2 linked regions of the Homo sapiens genome follow. The protein of the gene in region 1 interacts with the protein of each later gene in a pairwise test. Each region holds a gene or a part of one and is shown in the gene's direction. Other genes may lie near its edges.

The links.
Region 2: the proteins of ZNF613 (region 1) and CARD10 interact in binary tests that used the Homo sapiens proteins (3 or more experiments, as listed by UniProt).

Annotation. Positions count from the first base shown.
Region 1 is NC_000019.10:51,940,684-51,944,502, forward strand, and holds part of ZNF613 (zinc finger protein 613), read left to right. Parts: coding exon 1-26; intron 27-3,435; coding exon 3,436-3,819. UniProt on the Homo sapiens protein: May be involved in transcriptional regulation.
Region 2 is NC_000022.11:37,492,457-37,495,552, reverse strand, and holds part of CARD10 (caspase recruitment domain-containing protein 10), read left to right. Parts: coding exon 1-36; intron 37-1,364; coding exon 1,365-1,467; intron 1,468-2,750; coding exon 2,751-2,909; intron 2,910-3,002; coding exon 3,003-3,096. UniProt on the Homo sapiens protein: Scaffold protein that plays an important role in mediating the activation of NF-kappa-B via BCL10 or EGFR.

The DNA of each region.
Region 1 (3,819 bases):
TGAAATCCACAGCCAAATCTGTCCAGGTGAGTTCAGGGTGAGAGCCAGCAAGGAGGGTGGCTGAGCAAGTCACATGATAGTTGTTCAGCAGTGTCTGAGCTGTCAGGGCATCTGAGGCTGTGTGGACAGAGCCTCCATGTATCCCTCTCCCCACACAAAAGCTCTTTCTCCTTCGGGTATTTAGAGGAACATCTGCTTCGTTATCGCGTCTTGGATTTCATCACTGTTTATTTTTTATTTATTTTATTTTATTTATTTATTTTTTGAGATGGAGTCTCACTCTGTCACCCAGGCTAGAGCCCAGTGGTGCAATCTTGGCTCACTGCATCCTCTACCTCCCAGTTCAAGCGATTCTCCTGCCTCTGTCTTCCCAGTAGCTGGGATCACAGGCACCCGCCACTACGCCCAGCTAATTTTTTTGTATTTTCAGTGGAGACGGGGTTTCACCAAGTTGACCAAGATGGTCTCAAACTCCTGACCTCTGGTGATCCACCTGCTTTGGCCTCCCAAAGTGCTGGGATTACAGGTGTGAGCCACCACACCCGGCCTCATCACTCTTTATTTAATCTAGGTTTGATTTGTTTTTCTCAAGGTTTCTTCCTTTTTAGGATTCTCAAATCTCATCATTTCTTGTTCCCCCATCAGAGCATCACTACCTGTTCCTTCTACTTCTCTTGCTATGAAATTCCTCCTTCCATGTCTGTCTCCAAAGAGTGGTCTTGGATATCAGCACTCTCTCCTGACCACTATACCTTTCTGCCCCTTTAGATAATGTTGATTTTTTTTTTCCAAAGGTCTTCCCACCCTATCTTGGACTCTGTGCCCCCTTAGTAACCTGGTCTGTTGCTTTGCATATATTTGCTTCCTTAGCTTCTCTTTTTTCTCCCACTCTGAGGTCCTCCAGAGGTTCTGTTTCCCATTTATTTTGCTCTGTTCTCATATCCTTTAAAAGTTTCCTTCATTCTAATGACTTAAGTTCTTGTTCTCTATGGAGATTCTCAGATTGACATCTCCCTTAATATTTCCTAACTTACATGTTTGTACCTATTTTTTACCCACTTGCATGTCAACTCCTTGAGTCGATCCTGGCCACCACAGGGTTACCTTGAAACTTCCCTGCCTCCTCAGCTACCGTATTTAAAGTCTTTGCTCTTTCAATTGATTTTTGAAGTAGTCTCATTCTCTTTCCAACCCAAACCAGATTACTACACCTCATGCCTGCTTTGCTTCAATTTCCTTTTGGAATCATTAATTCTGCCTATTATTTAGTTTCTCTTAAATTATATTGCTGGACTTATTCCCTTAAAGCTTTTCTGTTCTTACCATAGTCTGATGGCACTGAGTCCCAGTGAATCATAGCAGTCATATAAGATGGAAATTTCTCATCTGTCAGGTGATATTCTAGTTGAATCACCATGATATGGTATCATCTTGCCTACACAGAGTTTGTTTTCCTTTTCCTTTTCATAAATTCAAAGCCAACTATATATAAAGCACTACATTTGAAGTAGTTTCCGCAGTGTGTCCCTTACTTTCCTTGTTTCATTGCCTTAAATATTTTTTGATAGACTATTACATATGGGCCCTGACAGCTGTGAACATCAATAACAACAACAAAATTCTTCTTGGAGATTACCTGCTAAAAGGAAGAGGCACAAAATTAATCAAAATGGATAAATGTCTTGTGGTGAAAAATGCTGGGAAGACCAATAACAAAGTATAATGAGGGATGCCGGGAGTGGGAATGGCTGTTTGGTCAGATGCCTTTGAGCAGCTGTATGACAGACATGAATACGTCCCCCTGGTGAATTACCTTCCAAGTAGACAAAATAGCAGGTCCAAAGGCCCAAGGCAGGTGTGTGTTTGAGGAACTTCAAGGAAGCCTGTGTGAATACAGAGGAGTGAACAAGAGGGGCAGTGGTCGGAGATAATACGGAAGTAAGGACAGTGTGGTGGGATCTGGAGTTTGGGGTAGACAGGTCATGTATGACCTTTCAAGGACATTTTAATGACTTGATTTTTTTTTTTTTTTTTGGCACAGAGTCTCTCTCTGTCTCCAGGCTGGAGTGCAGTGCTGTGATCTCAGCTCACTGCAACCTCTGCCTCCCTGGTTCAAGCGATTCTCCTGCTTCAGCCTCCCAAGTCGCTGGGACTACAGGCGTAAGCCACCGCTCCTGGCTACTTTTTGTATTTTTAGTAGAGACAGAGTTTCACCATGTTGGCCAGGATGGTCTTGATCTCCTGACCTCATGATCCACGTGCCTCGGCCTCCCAAAGTGCTGGGATTACAGGCGTGAGCCACTGCATCCGGCCATGACTTGATTTTTTAAAAAATTATGAGATGAGGAAACATGAGGGAGTTTTGAGTAGAAGAGTGACATGATGTCATTTATATTTAAAAGGATCACTTTGACTACTTTGTAGAAAGTATACAGGAGAAGGCAGAGGTTGAAGCCTGAAGTCCACTTGGGAGGCTATTGCTATAGTACCAGAAAGAGTGATTCTCTTCCATCTAGGTAGAAGGGGTGAGTGTTAGTGAGTTTCAGAATACAGGAGTCCCCTGTTATCCACAGTTTCTCTTTCTACAGTTTCAGCTACCTGTGGTCAACTATGGTCTGAAAATGTTAAATGGGAAATTCTAGAAATAAACAATTCTTAATTACATTGCTCACCATTCCAAGGAGCATGAAATCTTGCACCATCTTGCTCCATCCTGGAACAGGAATCATTTTTTGTCCAGCATATGCATGCTGTGTACCCTACCCACCTGTGTCACTTAGTAGCCATCTTGGTTATCAGATCAACTGTCAAGGTATCACAGTGCTTGTGTTCAAGTAACCTTTGTTTTACTTAATAATGCTTCCAAAGCTCAAGAGTGTGATGCTGGCCTATTGTTATAATTCTTCTATTTTATTATTTGTTATTGTTAATCTCTTGCTGTGCCTAGTTTGTAAACTTTATTATAGGTATGTATGCACTGTACAGGAAAAAACATAATGGATATAGGGTTAAGTATGATTCAGAGTTTCAGGCATCCATGGTGTGGGGGGTGTCTTGGAACATATCGCCCATAGATGAGGGATTACTGTATATTTATAAAAGACATAAGGAATTTACTACTGAAGTAGACAAAGGGTGTGAGACAAACATACAAATGAAAGATGATAGTAAGGTTTCTGGCATGAGTCCGAGCAGGAATTAACTTGCCATTTCCTGAGAAATTTACCTTGTTTATACACTGACTGCTTTTATTTTTTGTTTTCTTTGTTTAAATTATAATGGTTTATTCTTGTCCAAGTGACAATAGGCATATCTACTTGGAGTTTTTTAAACAGTGGAAATAGTGTGGTCAGTAGAGCCAGCCTGTACAAGACTGTTTGTGAAATAGTTCTATTCCATGCTCATGGAAAGATTTATTGTTCTCTTCTTTCCTAGAAATCAAGAAAGTTGACAATCATCTACAGATGCACTCACAAAAGCAAAGATGTCTGAAGAGAGTGGAACAATGCCATAAACATAATGCATTTGGAAACATCATTCATCAGAGGAAAAGTGATTTTCCTTTAAGGCAAAATCATGATACATTTGACTTACATGGGAAAATACTGAAATCAAATTTAAGTTTAGTCAACCAGAACAAAAGGTATGAAATCAAGAATTCTGTGGGGGTTAATGGAGATGGGAAATCCTTCCTTCATGCCAAGCATGAACAATTTCATAATGAAATGAACTTCCCCGAAGGTGGAAATTCTGTGAATACAAATTCACAATTCATTAAGCATCAGCGAACTCAAAACATAGATAAACCCCATGTATGCA
Region 2 (3,096 bases), on another chromosome or scaffold:
CTGCCCTCCAGCCGGCACCGAGGCCCCCGCAGTAATGTGAGCACGGCTGGGCAGGTAGTGGGTGGGGGGCCCCAAGGGTGGGGTCCAAAAGGGAGCTAGCAGGCTCTGTTCTCTGGCAACCTAGGAAGACACTCCCTCCCTCCTTCCCTGGTGATTTAATTGGTCATCTACTATGTGCCCAGCAAACAGAACAGCAGAGCTCACCGTCCAGGGTAGTTTAGAGATGAAATGAGGTAAAGCGTGCCTAGTATGCAGGAGTACCCCTGGTACATAATAAGCATTTGACAGGCTGGGCACAGTGGCTCACGCCTGTAATCCCAGCACTTTGGGAGGCCGAGGTGGGCGGATCACAAGGTCAGGAGATCGAGACCATCCTGGCTAACACGGTGAAACCCCGTCTCTACTGAAAATACAAAAACAAAATTAGCCGGGCGTGGTGGCGGGTGCCTGTAGTCTCAGCTACTTGGGAGGCTGAGGCGGGAGAATGAAGTGAACCCGGGAGGCGGAGCTTGCAGTGAGCCAAGATCGCGCCACTGCACTCCAGCCTGGGCCACAGGGCAAGACTCCGTTTCAAAAAAAAAAACAAAAAAAACAAACCAGCAGTCATGTCCCCTTTTCCAATGCCTGGATGGTGGCTGGGCTTCGTGGCCAGCGCTGCTGTGCACATGGGCAAGTGAGGCTCAGAGCCATCAGATAAAGGAAGAGCGAGGGCCCCAGCCAGGCAGCCTGCATTCGACCCCAGCTCTGCCACCTATCAGCTGTGTGACTTTGGACAATCACCTGAACCTTCCTTGAGGCTTGTTTCCTCATCTGTAAAGTGCGGGGGTTGTACTGCCTGTCAGGCTGTGCGTGGCAGGAGATGACTTCCGTGAGTTAGTGCCCCTCAGGGGCTTAGTGAGTGTCTGTCATGTTGTAGGCATTTGAGACCTGTCAGGTATTGGTAAAATCAGTGCCATCTTTATTGGTTTCATTAATTTTTCTACCAAGGTCACATTGCTAATTCATTGGAAGAGACCCTAAAGTTTGCCTCGTATGTGACATTTGGTTCCTCTTGGTCTCTGGGCCTCAGTCTCCCCATCTGTAGCTTGGGGGGTATACCTAAGGCTCCTCCACCAGGCTCAGACGGGCTGGCTTCCCGGGGGCCACAGGGATGGCTGCTCTCATCTGCCTGGGGGACTGTGCTGGGCTGGGGAGGGGCAGGGGAGGGCCTGGTGGAGAAGGACATCTTTGCTGACCCAGGCTCTTCTGGCAAGCCTGGACCACAGTGGCAGTGGGGCCCGCTGTGCCAGGGGTCCCGTTTCCTCCTCTCCCTGAGGGGGCGGGGCTGAGCTCTCAGATGCTCCTCTGTCCCTGCACCCTCCCAGCTGAAGAAGAGAGCCCTGGACCAGCTGCGGCTGGTGAGGCCCAAGCCCGTGGGGGCGCCTGCAGGGGACTCCCCGGATCAGCTGCTGCTGGAGCCCTGTGCAGGTGAGTGCGCGGGGGCAAAGCTGTATCCCGTGTTGCTCCCATTGTCCAGGGATGTGTGCAGCTGAGTGTCCTTTAGCTTGGGTGGCCTCTTTGGCCTGGAAGGGCCTGTTGTGAGGGTTCCAACAGGAGTGGGGGTCATGCTGGGGGCCTGAGAGACAAGACCACCCCACCTGCCATGGTGATTGCCAAGGTTGAGGGAGACCCTGCGGGGAGGTGCATGCAGACGTGGCTGTGACTGTGGGTTTGCACACATACTGGCTTGTTCTTTTCTGGCAGAGTGTGTGTAGTGGTGCTTCTCACACGTGTGTGGTGGCAGGTGCTGTGAGGACCCAGGGGGGTTCCCGGAGGCAGTAGGGTGAGGCCTTAGGCCAGACAGGTAGAAGGGGCTGGGGGAGCTCAGATGAGGGAGTAGCAAATCTGGGGCAAGAGGAGCGGGTAGTTAGGGAAGACTTCCTGGAAGAGAGGGAGTTTCCGCGGGGGCCTTCAAAGTTAAAGAGGAGTTCGTTCCAGGCAGAAGGCACAGAGGCATGGCTGTGTGTGGTGTGCTTGGAGGGTGTTGGGGACAGCAGGTGAGTATTGAGTACCAGCTCTGTCAGGCATTGGGGACGTGACTGTCCCTGCCCTCATGGAGCTTGCTGTCTAATTAGGGGGTAGAGAGTCAGATAATCCCACCTATGAACACAATGAGAGAGTGTGAGGTGTGCAGTGGAGAACTGGGGGCCGTGGGGCACATGCCAGGGGCCCTGATGTCTGGGGACCAGGGAAGGTGTGACCTAGGCTCTGAAGGGAGGGCAAGGGTTAACTGGGCTGAGTGGTGCAGGGCTGGGGCTTTGGGCAGCCCCAGGGCATGCAAAGGCCCTGTGGTTGGACGCAGCTGAAGGGAGAGTGGAGGCTGGTGGTGTGGGGTCAGTGGCTGGCAGCCTCCCCAGGCTCTCAGGCAGGACTGTGTCACCCACGTGGGGGATGTGGCTTTTATTCCTGAGAATCTGGGAAGTCACTGGTGTGTTGAAAGCAGGGGAGTTAACATGATCTGATTTGCTTTTTAAAGCCTCTCTGGCTGCTGGATGGAGAATGACCCGTAGGGGGCAGGGATGAGGCAGAGAATCAGGGAGGAGCCTACTGCCACCGTCGGTCCTACTAAGGGTGTGTGTGTGTGCATGTGTAGGAGGAGCAGCAGCAGGACTTAGGAAGGGATGGGTGGCGGGGTGGGTTTTGGGGTATCGACGAGCTGGTATGCTGCCTGCCTGTGCCCTTATCTCTTTTGCGCCCCTCCCCTGCCACAGAGCCGGAGCGGAGCCTCAGACCCTACAGTTTGGTGCGGCCGCTACTGGTGTCTGCCCTGCGGCCCGTGGTGCTGTTGCCTGAGTGCCTGGCGCCCCGGCTCATCCGTAACCTGCTAGACCTGCCCAGCTCCCGGCTGGACTTCCAAGTGTGCCCAGCGGGTGAGACTATGTGCCGGGGAGGGGAGGCTGGGTGCCCCTCTGGGCAGCCGGGCCCATGGATCCTTCATCTCTCCCTCTCCACTCCCTGTGCAGAAAGCCTCTCTGGGGAGGAACTGTGCCCATCCTCAGCGCCTGGAGCCCCCAAGGCTCAGCCTGCCACCCCTGGGCTAGGCAGCAGGATCCGGGC